7 linked regions of the Homo sapiens genome follow. The protein of the gene in region 3 purifies or fractionates together with the protein of the main gene of each other region. This does not show direct contact. Each region holds a gene or a part of one and is shown on either strand. Other genes may lie near its edges.

What was found.
Region 1: the proteins of NT5E (region 3) and SLC7A2 purify together in Homo sapiens (affinity purification with mass spectrometry; 3 studies listed by BioGRID and IntAct, with this or other methods). This does not show direct contact.
Region 2: the proteins of NT5E (region 3) and SLC44A1 purify together in Homo sapiens (affinity purification with mass spectrometry; 3 studies listed by BioGRID and IntAct, with this or other methods). This does not show direct contact.
Region 4: the proteins of NT5E (region 3) and SAR1B purify together in Homo sapiens (affinity purification with mass spectrometry; 3 studies listed by BioGRID and IntAct, with this or other methods). This does not show direct contact.
Region 5: the proteins of NT5E (region 3) and STEAP3 purify together in Homo sapiens (affinity purification with mass spectrometry; 3 studies listed by BioGRID and IntAct, with this or other methods). This does not show direct contact.
Region 6: the proteins of NT5E (region 3) and PDS5A purify together in Homo sapiens (affinity purification with mass spectrometry; 3 studies listed by BioGRID and IntAct, with this or other methods). This does not show direct contact.
Region 7: the proteins of NT5E (region 3) and USP36 purify together in Homo sapiens (affinity purification with mass spectrometry; 3 studies listed by BioGRID and IntAct, with this or other methods). This does not show direct contact.

What each region holds. Positions count from the first base shown.
Region 1 is NC_000008.11:17,563,088-17,566,587, reverse strand, and holds part of SLC7A2 (cationic amino acid transporter 2), read right to left. Parts: intron 2,986-3,500; coding exon 2,877-2,985; intron 1,639-2,876; coding exon 1,442-1,638; 3' UTR 1-1,441. UniProt on the Homo sapiens protein: Functions as a permease involved in the transport of the cationic amino acids (L-arginine, L-lysine, L-ornithine and L-homoarginine); the affinity for its substrates differs between isoforms created by alternative splicing.
Region 2 is NC_000009.12:105,380,651-105,384,150, forward strand, and holds part of SLC44A1 (choline transporter-like protein 1), read left to right. Parts: intron 1-2,472; coding exon 2,473-2,709; intron 2,710-3,500.
Region 3 is NC_000006.12:85,456,583-85,460,082, reverse strand, and holds part of NT5E (5'-nucleotidase isoform 1 preproprotein), read right to left. Parts: intron 1-3,500. UniProt on the Homo sapiens protein: Catalyzes the hydrolysis of nucleotide monophosphates, releasing inorganic phosphate and the corresponding nucleoside, with AMP being the preferred substrate. Shows a preference for ribonucleotide monophosphates over their equivalent deoxyribose forms.
Region 4 is NC_000005.10:134,622,829-134,626,328, forward strand, and holds part of SAR1B (small COPII coat GTPase SAR1B), read right to left. Parts: intron 1,210-3,500; 5' UTR 1,192-1,209; coding exon 1,134-1,191; intron 1-1,133. UniProt on the Homo sapiens protein: Small GTPase that cycles between an active GTP-bound and an inactive GDP-bound state and mainly functions in vesicle-mediated endoplasmic reticulum (ER) to Golgi transport.
Region 5 is NC_000002.12:119,251,334-119,254,833, reverse strand, and holds part of STEAP3 (metalloreductase STEAP3), read right to left. Parts: intron 151-3,500; coding exon 1-150.
Region 6 is NC_000004.12:39,901,412-39,904,911, forward strand, and holds part of PDS5A (sister chromatid cohesion protein PDS5 homolog A), read right to left. Parts: intron 2,781-3,500; coding exon 2,629-2,780; intron 1,050-2,628; coding exon 936-1,049; intron 1-935. UniProt on the Homo sapiens protein: Probable regulator of sister chromatid cohesion in mitosis which may stabilize cohesin complex association with chromatin. May couple sister chromatid cohesion during mitosis to DNA replication.
Region 7 is NC_000017.11:78,795,815-78,799,314, forward strand, and holds part of USP36 (ubiquitin carboxyl-terminal hydrolase 36), read right to left. Parts: intron 3,210-3,500; coding exon 3,094-3,209; intron 2,738-3,093; coding exon 2,606-2,737; 3' UTR 2,586-2,605; intron 2,089-2,585; exon of another isoform or gene 2,066-2,088; 3' UTR 1-2,065. UniProt on the Homo sapiens protein: Deubiquitinase essential for the regulation of nucleolar structure and function. Required for cell and organism viability.

The sequences.
Region 1 (3,500 bases), on a different chromosome or scaffold from region 3:
TTTTTTAAACCAAAATGTTTGATTCCCCAATCACTGATGGGTTATTGTATAACACTGGAGCTTGTATTATTAGGCTTAGTGTAGTCATTTGAAAGCAAATGGAATAAAAAGTGCTACACAATTTATGGGGTAGGGGGAGAAAAATATTCCTAAATGTTTCCAAAGGAAACATCAGAGGCAAATTAGATCCAAAGCCCTTAAATTGGGCCATTTGCCATTTAACAATGGAACAGGCCGTTCCTATCAGAACAGGGGGATTTTCTCTTCTTCTATCCCTTCATCTTTCCCTCTTTGCATGATGCTGCTGTAGCCCCCTCATCTCTAAGACAAGACAAAAGAAACAGAGAAACAAAGAAGTGAACTCTGGGCCTGACGAGGTTAAGAAAAAAACTAAACTGTGATTAAGTAAGTAATGGAAAAAGGAGGAATCATTCCACTAGTTGTGTGGTCTGGGAGAGTCTGTTGGCTTATTTTAAGTCACTTTTTAGAAAAGGATGCTTGGGGTCTACTTATTCAAGCATTGGTCTAACTCTTTGATCTTCAAACATATTCTCATTACGGCCACTCCATGAGCTTTCTGGCCCTGGTGACTATCTTCACTTTTTAATTTAAAGGGTCCCAAGTATATCACAGTGCCTCTCTTAAGTCCCTGACTGGGGATACGTCATTCACAGCAAGTGAAGACCTCGTATTTTAGGACCACTGTTTGCAAAGGAGACAAAAGTTCAAAAGGATGCCAACTAGTGGCATGGAATGCCACTCCTGGCCTGTGTAGTGCAGCAGAAGCAGACACCCCTGTTGGCTGAAGTTTGAGCAAACTGTCATACCTCACAGGAAAAAAAATTTGCATTAAACCCACTGTTGGCATTCACAACTTATTGAAAAGTCTCTTTCCTTATCCCCTCATCTTACCCCTAACCAGTGACAGACACCATGATGAGTAACTGCATTTTTGGCATCCCCTAAACTGACATTAATGAAGTCAAACAAGGTAAAGCTACTAGTATTTCCCCAACTGCAGGGGGCATAGATGAAACCTCTTTACATTCAGTGATTTCCCTCTATTTCAGTATGTGCAGTATATGCCACCGATTAATGACGACACTGGAAAAATGTAACACAATAATAGTAAAACACCAGCTAACTTGTAACACTCATGTTCCCAAGCATATACATAGATACATACATACACACATACATACACACTCCCACTGTTTGGGGGCTATTCATCACTGATGAATGAAACTTCCACTCAGGAGGTTTCCCCGTGCACATAATTCACCATCTGAGGAGATGCTGTCCAGATGAGTAAGTATAAATTAGGGTGAACTATGTATGCAGCAAACCCATGACAACCCAGCATGCTGATGACATCCCGTTACGGTTTACTCAGTGTAGGATATGTATGCTAAGACGATGACCAGCTCTGCTCCTGCAAGTGTTAGAATTCACTTGTCTTTTCATGGAATATGAAAGGTGAACTGAGATTTCTTGGGTGATGGTCATTTGCTTGAATGGCAGATTTTTCTTCTGCTGCTGCATGAACGTTGTCTGGATAAGCATCTTCTTCATTGTTTTCATCTCTCAGATGACCCTCCAGGCTGTGTCTAATGCCATAAGAAAAGTAAATCAGGAAGCCTGTTGGGGCAGGAAAAAAAAAAATCAATGTTTCAGGTATGTCAGAAAATGACTTTTAAGTTATTGAGGTGGAAAATGTAGAACTTAATAGAGTTTGTCTCTTTCCTTTCTGTAGTACTTTAGAACGGGGGTCACCAACCCCTGGGCCACAGACCACTATTGTTAGGAACCAGGCCACACAACAGGAAGTGAGCAAGCAGTCTCTAGTATTTACAGTGTATTTACAGCCACTCCCCATTGTGAACATTACCACCTGAGCTCTGCCTCCTGTCAGAGCAGGGCAGCATTAGATTCTCACAGAAGGGACTGCACACGTGAGGGATCTAGGTTCCATGCTCCTTATGAGAATCTAACTAATGCCTGATGATCTGAGGTGGAATAGTTTCATCCCCAAACCATCCCCCACCCTGTCCATGGAAAAACTGTCTTCCACAAAACCCGTCCCTGGTGCCAAAAAGGTTGGGGACCGCTGCTTTAGAAGAATGAAATGCAAATGTAAGATACCCCACAGAAGGTGTCCTTGATCAATATTTTCCTGGTAGAATGTGCCTCTCTATTGTGAAGACCCAAACTTTATAGACTGTATTTTGCTCTCAACAAGTTTTTCAATGTTTATATGGAAAAATTTTAATTGATGTTCTTAGAAGTCAATACTGTACTTTAAACAAAATGATATGTGGAATAAAGTCTCAAATTATACCCTAAATACAAGTGGTGAGTTATCAGAGTCAAGATCAGATATTTTGCAAAGTACACTCTGTATTAACAAAGAGGACACGGACATGCTTTACACGTGTCACTGTCACCAGGAGAGTCCGAAGAACTGTATGCAAAGCAACTGTTTATTAACAGCCACACTGACTGTGTGGGGATCAGGAGGCAACGTTTTAAGTACCCTCCTAAGATCACTGCAGACATGTAGGCATTTTGCTGTTTTAGTTCTATTTTAGAAAATTGGTTGTGAGTTTTGGGTTGATATAAAATGACTTTTTCTGGGTTTCATTTTTTTCACCCATAAGTAGAAGGAAATAGAGCCTACATGGTTCTACAGGGTTAGTGGGAGATACTGACTTAAAAAGGCATCTGAAAACATCTGGAAAAGCACTCGGACATCCCTAAGAATTAGGAAAGAAAGAAGCGGGAAAAAAAAGCCTTTATTCCCAGGATGGGGGAGAGGGCATGTTTCTCTCATCACAGCACATGAAATAGGAAAGAGAACCCGACATTAAAAGACCTACCAATTGCCATCCAAATGCTGAATCTGACCCAAGTGTCTGCACTTAACTGGACCATCAAGTAAATGTTCACCAAGATGCTGAACGCTGGCAAAAATGGTAAGAATGGAACCTGAGGGGGAAAACAATCCTTTTGAACATACTCATATTTTGAAGCATATTCCCCAAGTTATTTCAACAGGGTGGCAATTAATTTGGCATATATACTTTCACACCACGTCAATCACAGTTAAAACCACGCTTCTAGAGACCATAAAAGGAGAATCACATCTTAGAGTATTTACTAAAGCTCAAGGCACCAGGGGATTTATCAGATTCAGTAACACCTGCACAATCAAAATAATATTGGTTTTAGGATTTAGCTTTCTTTGGGGTTTACTGATTTCATTTAGACACACAAAGGGGAGACCTCTGAAATGTGGGATACATATGGTTATCCCAGGTACATCCTCCCAGGAAGCCCTCTTCAAACCCAAGCCAGTATACGGTTAGCTCAAATGGGACAGGATAGTTTAACTTGCAGTGGAGGAGCTTATCTTTTTAATGTTCAATTTAGTTTTATTTTATTTTTAGAGACAGTGTCTCACTCTGTCACCCAAGCTAGAGTGCAGTGATACTATGATAGCT
Region 2 (3,500 bases), on a different chromosome or scaffold from region 3:
TTTAAATGTATGAGAAATATAATAGAAGTCCCAGGTGATCCTGTTAAATACTCCCTAGGACGTGGGTATCTCCATCCATGTGGATCTCCATCCACCATGGAGATCACTGATATAGACCAGTACTTCTTGAGACATAGTCTTTATCAGCACCTGGGATACTTTTTAAATGCAAACTACTGGGCTTTATCATGGATCCAACCAACCAGACTCTGGGATTAGGGCCCAGGAATCTGCATTCTTAGCCTTTCTACAGTTTGAGAACCATTAATGTATCTGTTTGAATAAGTGCATAACACTCTTTCATTATATTTGGGAATAACTACTACATTTTTTTGGCTAAACATCACTAATTGTTGAAGTTACCTCCTGCATGAGAATATCTAAACTTCCATCTCACCAGCTTTTTGTCTCAGCGTCTAGTTTGTTTGAGCCATACCTTTTTTCTATAACTAACTTTACCATTTCAAAGGGGTTTAACTTTTAATGGCATGGTGAGAGCATGAAGAACCTCAGCCCTCCAAGAGGGTGAATGTGCAAGATTTGGAGAGTATAGGAAATAACTCACTCTAAAATTGAAACCAGGAGAGTGGAAGAAAATTGAAGTAATGACCAGGCGCGGTGGCTCACACCTGTAATCCCAGCACTTTGGGAGGCCCTGGCGGGCGGATCACCTGAGGTCAGGAGATCGAGACCAGCCTGGCCAACATGGTGAAACCCTGTCTCTACTAAAAAATACAAAAAAAAAAAAATTAGCCAGGTGTGGTGACGAGCACCTGTAGTCCCAGCTACTTGGGAGGCTGAGGCGAAGAATTGCTTGAACCCAGGAGGTGGAGGTTGCAGTGAGCCAAGATCATGCCACTGCACTCCAGCCTGGGCAACAGAGCAAGACTCTGTCTCGAAAAAAAAAAAGAAGAAAAAGAAAAGAAAATAGAAGTAATTAACCATCTATGGAAATAACCCCAGAAAATGAGAAAGAAAAAAAATGGAAGTAATTAACCATCTATGGAAATAACCCCAGAAAATAAGTCACTATAAGAGAAGATTCATAAGTGTGTTGCTACAAAAATGGTGGGGAGTCTTCCAAAGCTTGGGCAGACCCAGATTTGCTCCCTAGAAGCATCTGAGAGAGGGATCAATTTATAGCTTAACCAATGTATCATCTAATGCATTTTAACTCCGAGTTAAGATAATGGTGAATGAGAAATGCCTTGATGTTGATAAATATTGGAGAAAATGCCAAAGAAGAATTCATGGTCTGCCTATTATTCTTAATGCTAGACAAGAAGAGGCTGCCATGATTCTAGGGGTCTCTTTTTTCCCTTTACTTAAAGCCTTATACAAGACAAAATAAAGAGCTGGGAAAGAGTGTGTCTAGAATTCAGTAGAATCCATTACTGCTGTGGATCAATATCCAAATATTTCTGAGTTTTTATCTGAAAAGAGCACTGGAGTTGACATCATAAGACCATTATTTGAGTAGGATCTGTTCTTTTTTCCTACTTTTATGACCTTGACCTTGGATCTACTCTTTTTTTTCTACTCAGGTCGGGTGGCATCTGTAAGTGTGTTTCCAAGGCTATAAAATGGGATGATAATATTTGCCATAAACCATTCATAGGGTTATTGAAAAGCTGGAATAAAATGTATTTTAAAAACCACAAAAAATTTAAAATGCTGCATGTGAAATAAGCATCAGAGTGGGTGGTTCTTGACAATAACTAAATTGGCTATTTCTTTTATTCTTTTAGCATGGATGTTTTTGGCAACCTCTTTCTTCACAGAGAGTCCAAATATACACTTCATGGCAAATTATATTTACCACATATTCTATGTGAAATAAAATACGAAACACAGAAAAAGTTCTAAGACTATACATGTTTGTTGCAGCATTATTTATATCTGAAAACAATATAAATCTCTAACAGTAAGAGAATGGTTACATGTATTTTAAATCACTCATAAAATGAAATTATGTAGCTGAGTAAATATGAAGCATTTATAATGATACTTCTATGTATATTAATGAAAAGCTTATAGTGATTTGTTTATATAATACTATTTCATATATGTGAAAATGCTTAGAAAAAATACATACCATTACACTGAAATATCACTTTTTTTCTGAGTGCTAAGAGTTTGTAAATTTTTTCTAAAATATGCATACATTTATCTTAAAAATTGCCACAGATTCTAAATAGATTAAGTTTTAGGGTGCAGCATAGCATTTGGAAAACTTAATTATGTTTAAACCAGAATCATTTAAAGTATGATTTTAAAATTTATATTATATGATAAGCATGTATAACTCTGGGTGTATATGAGAATATGTGGATTATATTTCCTCATTTGAGATGGAATGGCCTCATGCAACCATCATTTATAAATAGTAGAATTTTAAGTCTGCAAATGGTGAAAAAAGAGTGGCTTTCTTCAGTAGGATATTAAATATGATCTTTGTTCTCTCTGCTTCAGGTGCTGATAGTCTGCAGCACAGGTTTAGCTGGGATTATGCTGCTCAACTACCAGCAGGACTACACAGTATGGGTGCTGCCTCTGATCATCGTCTGCCTCTTTGCTTTCCTAGTCGCTCATTGCTTCCTGTCTATTTATGAAATGGTAGTGGATGTATTATTCTTGTGTTTTGCCATTGATACAAAATACAATGATGGGAGCCCTGGCAGAGAATTCTATATGGATAAAGTGCTGATGGTAAGTACTTCAAATGCCGTTTCCTATTTTAGGGATAAAAATACCAATAAAAATATTTTGTAAAACATTCTCTATATTTAATTCACACTATATGCAACTGAGTAATTTAGAATTAACCCCATAGCACTGACTCATAAATGAGGTTAATCTAGGGTAAGTCAGGGAGGACGGCTTCTTGGCATGGACAAGATCATTTCAGATCCACCTAGCTAGAGCAGTACTGGTTAATAGTCCTAAGTTCACCCTATTCTTGCTGCCCCTCTCTCTGTAGTTAGATAGATTTGAATTGACTTTTTAAACTAGCTTCTAGCCTTTTCCTGAAATGGGGCTCAAAGACAAAATATCCTGTTTCCCAGGTCCTAGTGCCTACCTGTCTTTCTCTATCCACCACTGCCCCAAACATTACTGCTGTCAACCCTGGTTAAAACTCATTATCTTAAATATGGTAGGCCAAATTGAAAGCATTTTGTGATGAATACCGATAACAGACCCATGACTGGTAGAGTGTATAGTTATTTATTAGTCAAGATCTGAACCTTTACACAGATATATGCAGATTTTTCATATTAGAACCTCAATTAAATTTCTTTAAAATTTTGAAAACCTTATTAAATGGTTTAAGTACTGTTATAATCAGTGTTAAATGTTACCAAAGTAAAGATGCTTTCTAAATAATAGTAGTTTGCTATTAAGCTGTGAAATATTTCTATCTCAAAATGGGTAATATTGAATACTAAGCATTATACATTGAAATAACAAGTCATTTTCCAGGAGCATATTTTATCCAGTTA
Region 3 (3,500 bases):
TATTATTACTTCATAATTACCTGAAGTAATTTCCAAATAAGGTCATTGTATATTCCCAAAGGGAAGGTAGTTTTTGGCCTGTATAGAGAATTCATGTGAATTACAAGCCAAACTTTATACACAAGCTTTCTCTCATGCCTAACTAATTGCAAGGTATTTTTAATAATCAAAACAAGAAACTTGGATTCAGAATATCTTCATTCTTTGATCGTTGATTCATATGACCTTCTGGGTCTTATTCTTAGTGAACAGGGTTTACCCAAAGCCACTGGACTTTTATAAGCTATCCACATCAAATGTAAATATTGACAAATACCCCCAGAAGGTGTTAAAAATACCAGACTGTATCCCACAGGGTTCATTTAACAATAACAACAGGATTTTGAGTCACAGAAGAATAAAATCTCCTTTGGTTCTTCACATTTTCATTTGGTTTTGGCTTTAAACATCAGGCAAAATTCCAGGTATTTGGGTTTCAAAAATACTGGGCTGGGCTAGGCTAGGAAATGGAAACTAGAGGGATGAGGCAGTAAAAATGTTCCAAGTGATGACAAGAGGCTGAAACATGTCAGAAGGGAAACAAAGAAATGTTAGACGGTAAAACAAAGGATAGCAGAGTTTCTTTAAAAGCAGTGTAGGATGCATGATGCAGAAGAAAAGAATTTTTTTGTTCCACATAAATAAATTTTAATAATGTCAAAAAGCCATTTGTCAGAGGTTTGCAGCACATTTATTTAGCTAGTCACTTACACGCTAGCTCATTCGTTAAGGGCTGAGGTTGCAGGAAGCCCTATAATTGAAGAGCTAAAGAGACAGCCTAGGCTGGGCATGGTGGCTCATGCCTGTAATCCCAGCATTTTGGGAGGCAAGAAGGGATGATTGCTTGAGCCCAGGAGTTTGAGACCAGCCTAGGCAACATTGGGAGACTCTCTCTCTCTCTGTCTCTCTTTTTTAAAGAGAGACAGCCTGATTTACTATATGACGGGGCTCAGTTGCCAATCACTCAACATCATCCAGGGAGGATTACAAATTACATTTGTTTTGGTTGATAGGTTTCTGGCATTGTTGCCCACTTCTGATGTTGGGTTGGCTTCCATCCCTGCAGTCCTGGGCCAAGGAATGTTGGCCACAGCAGGTGAATGTGGCATCACACTGAATAGCAGGAAACACCCTGGGGTTCAACCCAGCTGCAACTGGGTTTGGTTGTTGAAAGAATGTATGAATGAGCAAGTACCAAATAGACAGCATTCTACTTGTTTGGGGAGGGGGGACGTACAAACTCTCCATACGTGCAAAATAGGCACATCAACATTCAGAATTAACTGCCCAACTAATTGAGGTCCAGGAAGGTTCAACTATATCTCTGAGGGGCTAGAGGGCTCCAGCTAATATTTGGATTATATATAGAACTAATTATTCAAGTGAGGGAAAAGAAGTGTCAAAAGAATGTTCAAATTCCGATTATGTGGCTGAGGAAAATAAACACTGGAGAGTACAGAGCATTCAGATGTATTTGTGAGTGATGTGCAGAAAGCCGCCAATATGATGTTGATTTGTTTGGTTCTCTCCAATTTTCAGTTAAGAAAACAACAGATGCTATTAATAGTACGAGGACAAGATGAGCTGAGAAACTACCTTTACTTCCTCCCTCCCCTGCCTGAAGCTGGTCATCCAGCACCTCTCTGCTCTGGAATTTAGACTGAAAAAGAGGAAGCAGAGGCCTGAGGCCACAGCCCCAGGATGGGAGTGGTGCTGTTCCTGTCTCTGAGGTTGGGGATCCACAACCCCCTAGACATTCACAACTTCTGACACCTGAGCTTTAGGAATAATTACTTTTTTGGTTGTTGTTGCCTTTTTAAAAGTGTCATTGCAAACAGAATCTCTCTTTCAAGCTTCCCAAACTAGTATTGCTAATTTTTCTTTCCTCAAGAAAGGCTTCATGACTGAAGATAAAGTAATTGTGACAGTTTCCTTTAACATAAGAGTCCTTGTAAGCACTTGTCTCTCTTCTTAGGGACAAGTTTTTATGGGAGAAGAAACATGCTTACTGCTGATTTCGGCTTAGATGCTAAATATGAGGGTCTGATGTGTCTTCTTCTACAGACCAGATCTTTAGCTCAAGAATCCCCATGCATGGGTGTTAGAATTTCAGTCACTTTTGCTTTGCTGTTTAACCTCTCTCCTTTATAGATCTTACCCAGTCCCTCTGTGTAGTTAAGAGGAACTCGAATGGCCATTATCCACTCTGCTATCTTCTGAAGAGTAATTTTCACCCTAGCAGGTCCTGATCGCTATCCTCAGCACTTAGCAGAGAGCCTGGCATGTAGTAATGCTGAATGAAGATTTGCAGATTGAATGAATAAATGAGCCCCAAAGACTCAGGCTCAAAACTGGGCTCATACTCTTCCCATTCCCCAGGCCATCATTTCTGTTACTACCAGAGTAACATCCCGCGAGCATCCTGGAAACCTCTTCACCTGCAAACAGTGGCCAAATGGAAGCACCTGAAAGACCTACGCTATCTCTCCACAAGGAAATAGCTGCCAAAAAATAAATAAATAACTGTGAAGGAGAAATTAGAGAGTTGTCATGCAAACTTAGACTTGTCCAGAGACAAACCAAGTGATGTAGGCAGATTAGAAGCAAGAGAGAGGGGTGGGGAGGAGCTGAGGTGCTGAGAAGTAACATGCAGTAGACCACCCTCTCCAATTCCCCCATTTTATAGATAAGGAAACCACTGCCAAATTCACACAGCTAGTAAGTGGAAGAGCCAAGAAGTAAAATCTGGGTGTTCTGACGTCCCATCCAAATCTCTTTCCACTGCTCCTGTCTGCCACAGCCCTGTACAGTCCAATGGTGCCCAGTAAGTCCAGGAAAAGTCTTCAGACTGCATTTCAGGGCTTGAGGTAGCAGGCCTCAGCTGTCAGCGGTAAGCGGAAGTAGAAGAATCCAGCCTCTGTGTGGAAGCATTAAAACCTGCTGACTCTCCCATTGCCTGGTGCTTGAACCCTCATAATCATCTTTTGATTACACCCTCTCCTGAGCCACCCCTGCAAAGAGAAGGCAAGTACAGCCGGCACTTACTAGGGGCTGGCCCTGTGCTAAGCACATTATGTGCACTACTATCTCTTGTAAACCCCACAGCACCCTAGGGGTGGAGACAACAATCACATACCTCACACATGTGGAAATGGAGGTTTCATGAGATTAAATAACCTGCTCCCAGTCCACAGATTCTAAGTGGTAGGAAGGGGACTTGATCCCAGTCTCACCCCCACGTTTACTCCCTTAGCCCTATACCTACCAGACAGAATGCCTTTTGCAGCTGGTTCCCGTGGATTTGGTCTCCTCAATTACCAGAGTTCAGGTGTTATCATCTCACACTTGGACTGCTGCCTGGCCTCTTTCCTCACCCTCTTCTCTCTTGTCTTCTCCCTCCCACCCTTTTCTGCTCATCTTCCAAAACCGTGATTTCCCTATGTAGCTGGGAGGGTTTTTCC
Region 4 (3,500 bases), on a different chromosome or scaffold from region 3:
TGTAGCAAGGAGGCCGGGCACAGTGGCTCACGCCTGTAATCCTAGCACTTTGGGAGTCCAAGGCAGGTGGAACATTTGAGGTCAGGAGTTCGAGACCAGATTGGCCAACACGGTGAAACCCCATCTCTACTAAAAATACAAAAAATTAGCCAGGCATGATAGTATATGCCTGTAATCCCAGATACTCGGGAGGCTGAGGCAGGAGAATTGCTTGAACCAGGAGGCGAAGGTTGCAGTGAGCTGAGATCGCACCACTGCGCTCCAACCTGGGCAACAGAGTGAGACTCTGTCTCAAAAAAAAAAAAAAAGAAAAAGAAAAAACTGTAGCAAGGCTGGGCACAGTGGTTCATGCCTGTAATCCTAGCACTTTGGGAGGCTGAGGTGGGCAGATCACTCGAGCTCAGGAGTTTAAGACCAGCCTGGCCAACATGGCAAAGCCCCATCTTTACAAAAAATACAAAAATTAGCTGGTGTGGTGGCACACACCTGTAGTACCAGCTACTCGGGAGGTTGAGGCAGGAGAATCGCTTGAACCTGGGAGGTGGAGTTTGCAGTGAGCTGAGATCACGCCACTGCACTCCAGCCTGGGCGACAGAGCGAGACTCCATCTCAGAAACAAACAAACAAACAAAACACCAGCCTGGGCAACATAGCAAGACTCCGTCTCTATAAAATTAAAAAAAAAAAAAAAAAGAACTGCTGGGTAAAGAAGTCTCATTTGGCTTATTAAAAACTGCTATTTATGGTGTACAAGCTACTTTATGGAACATGCATTTTAATAATAATCCTGTAAGGATTAAATGACATAAAGCATTAAAGCATATAGGTAAACTAGCTAATAAATGGTAGATAGTTCTGTTAGTAATATTCCCAACACCTTAAGAGGTAGGAATTATTACTGCCATTTTACAGATAAGAAAACTCAGGCTAAGGTGAAAAAAGTAATTTGCCAAAGATTACTTAATTTAAAAGGGATACAATGAGTAATTGAACATCTATGTATGATTTCAAAGCCCATATTCTTAACTATTCTTTACTACTGGCTTATCTATAAAGAGACTTGACACAGATAAGCACTATTAAATAAATAAGACCAAAGGGGATAACTGTAGAGAACAAAGGACCAACATTACCTAAAAACTGTAGCACACTGCTGAAACCACTGTAAATCCAATCAAATATGAAGGACATATCCAAATCTGATAGGGTCTGAAAAAAAAGAGTTTGAATTTAGTAGTCAACATTAAACACCAATATACATTAAACTCCAATACTGTTAAACACCAACTCTGAGTAGATAATCCTACAGCAACTTTACTACAAAGAGTTACACACTTTGGGAAGCTGAGGTGGGTGGATCATCTGAGGTCAGAAGTTTGAGACCAGCCTGGCCAACATGGTGAAACCCCAACTCTACTAAAAATACAGAAATTAACCGGGTGTGGTCATGGGCCCCTGTAATCCCAGCTACTCAGGAGGCTGAGGCAGGAGAATTACTTGAACCCAAGAAGTGGAGGTTGCAGTGAGTGGAGATTGTGCCACTGTACTCCTGCATGGTGGTGCACACCTGCAGTACCAGCTACTCAGGAGGCTGAGGTGGGACGATTGCTTGAGCCTCGGAGGTAGAGATTGTAATGAACCGAGATCGCACCACTGCACTCCAGCCAGGGTGACAGTAAATGGGATAAGAGGTTAATAGGTGAGGCAGTGAGGAGAGATTCCTATTTCAAAAAATTTCAAATGGTAAAAAACTAAAATCGTTTAAAAAAATGTTGGAAATGGGATAAGGGAAGTGAGTTTTTTTTTTTTTTTTTTTTGAGACAGAGTCTTGCTCTGTCGCCCAGGCTAGAGTGCAATGGCTCGATCTCAGCTCACTGAAAGCTTCTCCTCCCAGGTTCAAGCGATCCTTCTGCCTCAGCCTCTCGAGTAGCTGGGATTACAGGCAGGCACTGCCATGCCTGACTAATTTTTATATTTTTAGTAGAGACTGGGCTTCACCGTATTGGCCAGGCTGGTCTCCAACTCCTGACCTCAAGTGATTCGCCTGCCTCAGCCTCCAAAAGTGCTGGGATTACAGGCGTGAGCCACCCCAGGCCTGGAAGTGAAATTTCCTTCTCAAAAAGGGTGAGGCTTGAGTATGATGATAAACTAAAGAGAAGGAGATAGTGGGATGGAAGAAGTAATAGGGAAGAAAGGAATTAACCAAAAGGGACAAAGTCCCAAGAGGAGCTTGGACTGACAGCCTATGTCTCTTGTCTAAGATTAGGAGGAAAGATGGCCAGAAAATTTGTGGAGGTGGTGGGAATCTGACTCCAAAAGTGAAAGGGTATAGAGAATTTTTGAGGAGCAGAGCAAGCATTACAATAGCTACTATGGGGAATGAATCAAGTTAAAAGACTGCCAAAAAAAGCCAAGGACTCAGTTGGAATTGAAACTCAAACATTCACAGCAGTGCCAATCTGTGCTGATTTCCAACCTTCCACCCTCCACCAGCAGTGCTCAACATGGAGTGACTAGAGATTAGGAACATCCAGAATAGAAATGAAAAAGGACAAGGGGAACAGGATTTTGAGAGTACTAGTGAGAGGGCTGTAGGGATCTGATCAGAAGTTCAAGTTGAGTGGACAAAGGTAAAGAAAGGTAGTATACAGAGATGGAGCGGTGATCAAAGGCAGGCTTCTCAACAGAACAGAATTGGGAAAATAGGGTAGAAAAAGTCTCTAAGCCAAAAACAGAAAAGGGTGAGAGAGGTGAAAGGAGTGCCAGAATTGTGCCAGCAAAGTGGAAGAGAATATAGGGGGTTCAAGAATTCAAGAGAAGTTCAGGGTTGGGTGGTGGCAAACTCCAAGGCCTGGCTCTGGCATGGACGATAAAGAAAAATGGAGGTGACAGATACTGGAAGCCAGGCTAGAGGGTACACTGTCCACATTGACAGGCAGTGTAATCACCTGGAAGACTGGAGGGCACTGATACAGACTGTGAATCAAGTGGCAAAGTCCTCACTGAAGATGATTGTTGGTAGGTGAGAGCTAAAGAATGGTGAAAAGCCTTGACAGAAAAAGGATTTTTTGCATAAGGATGGTACCAATTTGCTGTTGTAAAATTTGTCCCAAGAGAGATAATCTAAGAAGACACAAACTCTGCTTTGGAAGATAATAATATATATATTTCTTTAAAATTGTGGTTTCAGCCAGGCACAATGGCTCACACCTGTAATCCCAGGACTTTGGGAGGCTGAGGCGGGTGGATCACCTGAGGTCAGGAGTTCAAGATCAGCCTGGCCAACGTGGCAAAACCCCATCTCTACTAAAAATACAAAAATTAGCTGGGTGTGGTGGTGCACACCTGTAATCCCAGCTACCCAGGAGGCTGAGGCAGGGGAATCACTTGAACCCAGGAGGCAGAGGTTGCACTGAGCCGAGATCGAGCCACTGCACCACAGCCTGGGCCACAGAGCAAGACTCTGCCTCAAAAAAAAAAAAAAAAAAAAAAAAAAAAAA
Region 5 (3,500 bases), on a different chromosome or scaffold from region 3:
CTCCCTCCAGTTGAGCGAGTTTGCAATGGACGGCAGTGAGGTCACGGCCAGCAGGGACAACGTGCCGAGGGCCAGCACTCCCAGGGAGAGGTAGATCTCCATCCGCCAGACCTCCTCCTCCACCCAGAGGTGGCTCTTGTTGGCCAAGACCTGACATGGATGGAAGGAAAACCATGAACACTGTGGCAAAGGCTGGTGCCCCGGGAGGGCAATGATGAAGGACACAAGAAAGACAAGACGGCGGGCGCTCACACTGCACCTGACGCTACCTGGCTCTGTGATAAGCGTTTCTCAGGCATTAACTCATCGAATCCTCAAAACCACCCCACAAAGTAGAGATCACTATTAGCCCATTTTAGAGATGGAGGAAATGAGGCACAAAGATCAAATCACTTTCCCAAGGTCACATGTAGCTAACAGATGCAGAGCTGGGATCAGGACCCACTCAGCCTGGTGCCAATGACCGGGGCTCCTGGGGCTTTCACATATCTGCCCCGGGGCAGCCAATCAGAACAGTCACATCAGCAGAGTAAGGAGTCAACCAGAAATACAGCCCTTAAGCATGGCTCCGTCTCACGGTTTTCCGGCCCCAGAATCCCAGGACAGGAGAGAGGAGCTCTCCTAGCTCTGAATCCCCTCAGCCAATGAGCTCACACCTTACTGGCTGCTTCCCTTCCCAGCCTGTCTCACCCTGAGCCCTCTGTCTTCCTGGAGCCCCACACTGCCCCCATCACTGGCTCACACTCAGGACATACAAAGACACATACAGACACTGAGCCCCCAACACTCCCCGACCCAAAGCTCTCAGCCTCCCCTCTTCCTACCCAGTTCTCTACTTCTGCCTGAGGCACACAGCCTTGGCTCAACTTTGCCAGGCAAGAGAGACTGACGGCCATTCACCAAGCAGTTCAGTGACCACTTACGAAGCACCTACTGTGTGCCAGGCCCTGGGCTACAGAAAATAAAGATACCTGCCCTTACCCTGCCCTCACAGAGATCTGGGCCCCCCCACCAAGTTCCAGGACATATAAATTGGGGAGCCCCTATGAACCTGGAGATTTCTGACCCTTCTCTCCCCACCTTGCCACTGAGCCCCCTCCTAGCCCAGCCAACACTCACTCGCATAGTGCCCTCATGAGGAAGAACTTTTATCAAGGTGCAACTAGACCGGGTAGCAGAGTTCCTGGAAGTCAAGGTGTTCTCTGTGAAACACTGTGAAATGCTGGTACTTTTATTCTATAATGTCAGCAGAACAAGGAACAGTATTTCCATTAGAAGATGTGACTACACTTTAATAGGCAGCCTCTCAAAACAGAATGACTCATACAGGTTTTTTGAGAAACAATTTCAGCAGAAAAAAAAAAACACGAGCTCAGTTACCACATAAAATATTAAAAGTGAATCCACTGGGCTGAGCAAAATGGTTGTACAGCTTATAAGAGAAAGTTTAAAGAAACAGAGAAAATGCCATCCATTGAGTGCTTTTCCTGCAATCTGTGAAAAATGATTGGCTCTGTTCTATTTTAGGGCAGGCCTGGCTCACTTTGGTGACTTTAAGCCACTAAGGGACCAGGAGTCTAGGGACCCAGCCTCTTGTCCTGACCACCAGTGGCATGTGACTCTGGCAAGACTGTCTCTGGGCCTCAGTTTCTCTACCTAGGAGGTTTGGATGAGGTCATGTCTGAAATTCTCTTGATTTTGCTTATGTGCCTGCTGTGGTTGAAGTCACCATTAGCTGGAAAGGCGTGCAGAGGGCAGAGAGGTCTCCTCCGTACCTCTGCCCAGAGAAGTCTTACTCACACCTCACAGCATGAATTGAGTAAGTCATCTCCTCGCTGGAAGTTGTTTGTTCTTTAACTCTGCTTCATTAGTCATTCCTCTCTGCGCCTCGGGAAGATCAGGCAGTTAATGTCACAAGTCAGAGTTTGGATGATTACACACACGTATACCACATTGGCTTGTAAAATGCCTTGTTTTTTTCCTCTAACATTTCCAGTCTGCAGTGACGCTGGGAAGGGAGGGATGAGGTGGGCTAGGGAGCAGTGGATGGCAAAGACCCGCATGAGGACAGAACCTAAGCCAGCCTTAGGAGTCCATGAGATTCTCAGCCAGCCTATTAAACCACAGTGTTGTGCTCAGAGCTCCCTGGTGACCAGTGGCACACATGGCTAACTGGAACGCAGATGTAACAGCTCCCCTAGTAAGTAAGTCTCTATGTTTAGAGATGATCAAGTTCACCACCTTCTCCTTGAGAAGGCCAAGGAGAGTGTTCATCAACAAGAGATGGAAAGACAGCATTCAGGTGTGGGATTTCCCTCTAGGTTGCAGGTCAGACGCTGAAGGACCAGTGAGGCTGCAGCATTAGCCCCTCTCCATGTCTTCATAGTGGGTGATGGATGGGAAGAGAGTGGTACCAACTCACTGCCTGCCAGACTCAGAGGAGGAGGGGGTGGCAGGGTGTGGAAGGGCAACCTTGGGGCATAGAGACCATAGGCCTGGATTCTGACGCTGACTCTGCCACTGGTGGGCAGTCATGAGACCCTGGGCAGTCCCTTTCCTGGCTCATAGCATCATTGTATCTTGCTGTGTTACTGCAGGACTAAAAGCATTACGTTTGTGGAATGAGTAGCATGGAACAGGCACACAGTGGGCACTTAATGTAATAAATGGCTGTTGTTCTTAGTGGCAGCAAGGCAGTTAGACTAGTTCTTGCTCCAAGCTCTACGTGCACTCCTCTTAAGATGCCTGATATTGGCTCTGTGGTGGCCAATTTAAAAATCAGTCACTCAGTGAGCATGCACTGTGAACCTGTGTTAGGAACCATGGACCCCAAGGTGTAGAAGACCCAGTCATGGACCTCTGAGTCGGGTATGAAGTAGTGTGTAAGAAAAATAATAAAAAAGTATTTACAAAATGCAACAGATTACAGAGGCAGGTATGGGGAAGTAAGGGGATAGTCTGGGGGAGCTTAACAGAGGTAGGGTTTTGAAGGAGGAATAGGAGTTTGCAAGCTGTCAAGGTGTCCTGGGGTGGGCGTTCCAAGCCGAGAGGAATGAGCTCTGCCCATTTAGAGGACAGTATGGGACCCAAGTGTTGACACGTCACAGGAGAAGGGGAGATGAGGCTGCGGAGGGAGTCTAGCTGCATAGTGAGGGTTCTACCATTATCCCAAGGACACTGGGGTCACTGGATCTTTTCAGCAGTGACATGGTCAGATGAGAGTTTCAGACCATCCTGTGCCAGCCATGTGCAGATGTAGCTTGGGGTGAAGGTAATAGGAGAACGGGGTGAAGGTAACAGGAGAACAGTGTGCAGGTTAAACATTTCTTTGATCTTGATCTTTGAGTTTGATGTTGAAATGTGTATTTCCAGGGAAATACACAAGCAAATCCAAATGCCCTGTACAAATATCGGTTATTGTTGGTAATAATACTGTCTGTAAACATGGTCTCAAAGGTTTTCTCTACAGCTGGCATACACCTTTGCCTCCTAATCTGCAG
Region 6 (3,500 bases), on a different chromosome or scaffold from region 3:
CGTGCACCACCATGCCCAACTAATATTTTTGTATTTTTAGTAGAGATGGGGTTTCACCATGTTGGCCAGGCTGGTCTCGAACTCCTAACCTCAAATTATCTGCCTGCCCTGGCCTCCCAAAATGCTGGGATTACAGGGGTTAGCCTCCACGTCCGGCCTAAAAATGCAGTCTTAATCTAATAATGCAGGAACACTTGAAGAAGCCACAATGGCAAACAGTCAAATTCCTAACTCAAAATTCTCTCTCTTTTTTAAGACAGAATCTCACTACATTGCCCAGGATGGTCAAGCTTCTAGGCTGAAAAGATCCTTCCATCTTCAGATCAGAATTCTTAATGACATCACTCATTTACTTTGTGTATTTTTGACAAAAATTACATATACGATGGTGTACAACATAATATATGTATATATTGTAACATTTACTTTAAAAAAAAAATCTATTAAAGTGAAATGACCACACATCCTGGTTGGCCTGGGACAGTTTGATTATGCTATTTAAGTAAAAATATCAATAGTGATCCCTTTCAGTCTGAAAATAATCCAGTTGGACCATTAATCATATGGCCATCTTACACAGAGAAGATCTGAATATGTTCACCCAACAAAGAATCAGTATTCAGTTATTAGGCTTAATATTTAGTCTGGAAGGATAAAGCACCAGTAGTTTTAGACACTAGCCACAGGTATTTTGACGTGGTCATTTATTTGAACACCTGAAACCATCCTACTACTGACCTGGCTGCCAAACAAGCCTACACATATAAGAATAACCTGAACATAAATCGTAACATTTTGTCTATAAATATTTACCTGAGGTTCTTGATTCAACTATAGAAGCAGCAACAATCCAATCAATAACAACTAATTAGATAAGATGAAGTAATTTTACGAAATCCTTAGAAAATACAGCAGTTATTTGAAAAGTAACTTACTTTACAGCATTTGGATCCAAACTAGCATATAAGTAATATAAGCATTTCATTCTCTCTTCTGTTTCCAGGTTGTGGGGGACAAGATACTGAGCAAAGATTTTCTCTACCAACAGTCTAGGAAATAACAACAACAAAAAAAACCTAAGTGACACAATTATTCCATTTTTAAGAAGCAATTTTTTTTTTTTTTTTTGGAGACAGGGTCTTGCTCTGTCACCCAGGCTGGAGTACAGTGGTGCAAACTCGGCTCAATGCAACCTCTGTCTCGCAGGTTCAAGCGATTCTCCCACCTCAGCCTCTCCAGTAGCTAGGACTACAGGCGCGTGCCACCATGCCCAGCTAATTTTTATATTTTTTGTAGAGACAAGGTGTCCCTATGTTGCCAAGGCTGATCTGGAACTCCTGAGCTCAGGCAATCCGCCTGCCTTAGCGTCCTGAAGTGCTGGGATTACGACGGGCATGAGGCACCACACCCAGCCAACATTTTAAGTTTTAACCATCTTATGCCAGGATACCATATCAAGATAATAGCTATGTGTGCACATACAATGGAAGATATCAGTTTATAATGACTTCCTTCTTGGAAAGCTTTCAGTACAGTTTAACTTTAGAGACACGGTTACTGTCTGTGGCTTTATAATTTGTCAGTATGAAACATTTGTTCTAGAAGGTTTAAATGTTATTCCTAAACACAGGGTGCTAGGCTGTTCCGCCTATTCTTCTTCAGCAGTCTAGAACAAAAGCAAATTCATTAACGCAACATATAAAGCTATGATCCGCGGTAGAGCTAATTCTCAAGAAACTCATTAATTTCCTCTGATTACAGTTCAGCCCATTTTCCATGTTGTCACATAGTTAAAAACAGGGGGACCCCCCTTCATATTACTTCCAGAAAATGTAGTTTTTCCTGTGTACATCTGATTATTGTTCTCTCCATGATCTAAATTCCTTACCAATATTGGAATATCCTTCTTGCTAGTACCTATTGCTTGTATCTTCTTGCTTCTATTATTTAATATCACTGGATTAAGAATATACAAGATCTCTTAATTAACAAATGAAATACATATCCAGTGATGCCAGAGAAGTTAGTTTAATTAAACAAAACAATGGAAACTATTCTGCACACACCAAGTATCATTTGTACGATCCAATATAGAATTATAAGTAATATTCAGAAAATGAAAACAACTTAGTAATTCCTCTATTGGTAGTGGTGTAAAAAGGAAAGTAACTAGCAGTTAACTCAATAGTGCTCTCTTGCCACACATTGGGCTAGGATGCTTTATATTCATTATTTTATTTAATCTACATGATAATCCTGTGGGAAAGGCACTATTATTTTTCCTTTTTATATAAAACTGAAGCGCACAAGACCTTAATGAACCTATGTAAGAATACACATCTAATAAAGGGCAGAGTGAACATTTGGTCTCTAACTCCAAAGTTCATGCCTATTTCATATTATAAGGCTACCTTATAATCGTGGACAGTCTTGTTTAAACACAGTACATAAAAATATGTAAAAAGCTATCTCTAAACTTAGAAATAAATGATTAATCAAGTTGAATAAACTTAATTTTATTTATGAAGTAAATACATAAAAATAAGAAATTACTAAAATATTAAATAGACATTTTTTAAGTAAAAAGTAGTTTTACACTCAACCATTCTACCAACATATTAAACTCACTTGTCGTCAATGCTGTTCTGATAATAAATATGCAGAAGTTTGTCCTTTATCCAGCTGACTTTCTCTGCAGCTTCCTTTCCTGCTTCACCATGAAGACAGTATTTCTTATAAAGCTGAGCCAGACCCATCATAGCTTCTTTTCTTACTCGCCACTAAAAAGCATAAAATTTATTAGATGAGCAAGATAACAAAACTCTGTACTAATCTCCAAAGACTGCCTTGGCTTCATTAGGTTGTACAGTCTTATGTGTGCCTTTATAAACTGGCACACTATTTCTCTTCAAAAGAGGCTTTACAAACAATTTTATTTTTTTTTTGAGACGGAGTCTCACTCTGTCGCCTAGGCTGGAGTGCAGTGGCAGGATCTTGGCTCACTGCAAGCTCCGCCTCCCAGGTTCACACCATTCTCCTGCCTCAGCCTCCCAAGTAGCTGGGACTACAGGCGCCCGCACGCCCGGCTAATTTTTTATTTTTAGTAGAGACGGGGTTTCACCCTGTTAGCCAGGATGGTCTCGATCTCCTGACCTCATGATCCGCCCGCCTCGGCCCCCCAAAGTGCTGGGATTACAGGCGTGAGCCACCGCGCCCAGCCTACAAACAATTTTGAATCTGTTCCTATTTAGAAATTTTCCAATGCAAATATTGCTAAATGATCTACTTTTTTCTTTTTAAAGAAATGGGGTTTCGTTACGTTGCCTAGGCTGGTCTCAAATTTCTGGGCTAAAGTGATCCTCCTGCCTTAGCATCCTGAGTACCTAGAACTACAGGTTACTGATTTTTTATTTCCCTTGAAAACTATTAATAACCTTATGGGAGAGTTCATTTGATTCTATTGAAAGAAAATTCACCAAGTTTTAGAAGTGATTATAATT
Region 7 (3,500 bases), on a different chromosome or scaffold from region 3:
GGTAGCTGCTGTACACAGGCCCCACTCCCTCCAGCTCCATTCCCAAGCACAAAATTCAACAGACCCAGATCCTAAGTCAACCAAGTGACTGCTATGACAAAGGCTTGGGTTATTGACATTTACTTACATACGTGTACAAGACCTAGAGTTTGAACTCGTTTTCTGGGCCTCATCTTTCCCTTCCCTATCTGGTTGATGACTTCGGTGGAGGGAAGGGACGTGACTCCACCCAACAGTGATAAACGCTGCAGAAAGTCATCTCGTGCTCACCACTGCCCAAGAGTTAACGAATGTATGTACCCCAGGAAAAGGTTTTACAGTTATCTAGTGGAGAAGGGAAGAGACTGATTTGGAGGAGAGAAGGGAGAGAAAGGAACGAGATAAATTCTGTGCCAGCAGACAACTAACATTTTCAACTACAGAACATCACACGGTAAACATGGCAGAGGGAACAGTTCACACAGGAATGCAAGTCAACACCCCGAGAAGAAAAGGAACATACCCTGCCCGTGAAGGCATGTGCTTTCCCTTCCAGATAAGTTACAAAGCCAGAGCACGGAAGCCAGGCCCTCATCTTTGAACATTCAGAGACTGGTCCGCAGGAGAGGGCACCCTGAGCAGCTCCACTCACTGCTGCTGGGACACAGGTGGCCACAGGAGCTTGATTCTCTCCCACCCTTCTAAGAAGAGAAACGTAAAAACAGAAGAAAATCCAAAAAGAGACACCCACCCACATGGAAAAAAATAAATGTATCTTCCCATATTAAAAAAGCAATTCCATCTACACGCCAGTAACCACCCAGGCCCCGAGCACAGGGGCAGGAAGCAAAGCTGCCCCAGGGAGAGGGGGTGCAGACAGCGAGGCAGCCACCCGGGACAGCAGGATGCCTCTGGCCCAGCAGAGCCACACTGAAGGAGGTCTAAGTCCAACACCACGTTGTCCATCTCCACCTGCGACGACTCCGGGAGGAAATGACGGGGACAGACCCGATGAGGAAGGATGTTCACGGTCACCTTCACACTTCCCACTACTATGAGGGCATTTGTCTTTTTCCTGAAAATATCACCTTCTCTGAGGATTTCCTGTATTTATTAAGTTACAAGTTGGCAGGCACAGCTTGAGCAACATAGAAAAGTAATCTTCTTGAGTTATACAATCATTTAAATTCCAAAGCACTCACAAAATTGAGCAAACAAAGCCACTATTTGCATATTTGGGAAAGGAAACATATTGCTAATGGAAGCCACAGGACTGGTCAAAAATAAATGTTTTGTATTAAGTAGTAAAATAAATGGAGAATTCTACCCCAAAGCCTCCACCTCAGTGAAGACCTGCGGGTTATTGCAGCTGCAAGGGAAGCTACAGCACAGTCGTCTCAGAATAAACAGCAGCCTGGAAAGCAGATGTATTCGCAGGTATCGAGGGCTCCTCCGACCCCAAATAGCCTCTGCTCTCCAGGACAGTTGAGAGCTACTCACAAGGAAGGGGTGCACAGTAGGGCCACCCTCTCGAGTTCCATAAAAGGGAGAGGTGGCTGGGTGGGGTCACCTCTTCCTTTCTGAGGACAGGTAAGGCCAACAGATGAAGGGGTCCCGCTGAGGAAGCAGGGGAGGGCGGGCTCGGACACAACGGTGGCGTCAGCCCCGAGAAGCAAGGGATGGCTTGCCCAGAGCCACCAGCTATGCACCGGGAGACCACCTGGGGGACATGTGGCCACCATCCCCCACTCTCCTGATAGCCCCAACCAGGGGCAGCAGCCTCTGCCAGCACAGACCACTGTCTATGAAACATGAGAAGGCACAGCCTGGCAAAGATGTCCAGCAGGTGTGCGGCCACCTCTGCTCACACACACACTGTCGTTTCTCTTGCAGGGCTGGTCGGGAATGTCACCAAAGAGGTTCCGATCTAGAGAAGCCTCAAAGCCTCTGTGTTGGGCGGTCTGTGGACACTGGTACCGGGAGAGCTCCTACCGTGACAGGCTCCCAGCGCAGCAGAGCCCACACAGAGAGCTCCCTCAGATCCAGACCGACAGCTCCCGGGAAGGGACGCCTTGTCTCCAGGAGGCTGCAGAACAAACCACGGTAGTCCTGACAGAGAGAAACGAGACCCGAATCTTCCCACTGCCACCCTCGGGTATGAGTCCAACCTAGGAACCCAATGCATGGCATCTCGATGCGGCTGGCAAGAAGTCACCCTTCTGCAAGTGACTGGGACACATGCCAGATATACACACAACCCACATCCCACACACACCCCACACATGCCCTTCTCCAAGTGACCAGAACACATGCCACAGATGCCAGGTGTACACACCCCACACCCAACACACACTACACACACCCCCTTATACACACGCATCCCACACACACCCCCTTATACACACGCATCCCACACACACCCTTCTCCAAGTGACTAGGACACACACCACAGACGCGCCCACACCACACACACCACCCAACACACATGTGCCAGATACACAGCCCACATACATCATACACACACGCCACACCCCACCACACCCCTACACACATACACGGCACACACACCCCCACCTCACCCTTACACCCACCCCCTCGGAACCGACCTCCTTCCACAGGGGCACAGTCAGCGGCGATAGCTGAGGCTGGCAGCCTTTGCTGGGTGAGTCACAGACCAGAAGTTCCGTCGAGTCTGAAGTTTCTGGAAGGCGTTGAAGTTTCTCCTCTTCTCTCTCTTAAATTTTTTAATTTTCTTTTCCTAGACCAAGAATCACAGGCATCACAGTTCCCAAAAACGGCTCTTTCCTGGCCCACGGGGCTCCATGCTGCATGCAGGTCCTGCACACAGGCCGGGCTCTCATGAGCTCTCTGGAGACCCACTCTTCACAATGACCCCTGTGCACGGCGACCTGCAGTCCCCCTATTGACAAAGGGGCGGAAGCTGCGAGGATGCATGCCCTGTCCATGGCCACACGCCCGGACAGGCCTGGGCAGCCTGGCTCTTCTCATGCTCGGCCGCTTCATGCCACTGCCGCCACCTCCAACTGCCCCGGCTCTGAGCTGAGCCACGCCGCCCTGCTCCCTCAAGCCTGTGGTCAGCATCACACATCATACCTTCCCTCGGTCAAACTCTTCGTCCCAGTCATCAACCACGGTCTCAGTCCGGGCCTGTCTGCTGTCTTCAATAGCATCCTGACTGACCGCCGACATCTTGCCATCCCAGGTCAGAACTACCAGGCAGACACGGGGGTCAGCACGAGTGCAGGTTCCCAGGTCCCCTGTGGCTTCACTTCAAGAGTGTCATTTACCAACTAGTCTACTCATAATTAGTCAACAATTTTGAGTGCCACCTTGTGGTGAAGAGAAGGACAAGAGGAGGACGGCTCGACGCCCATGTGTGGTCGGTCAGCATGGAACCCCCAGCGATGCCCTCTTAGCTAAACCCTAAACCACAGCCAAAGAGTTCAGTTCTTTCTAAACCCATGCCCTCGTCTGAGGAACAAAGATGTCATGTTTGGTCT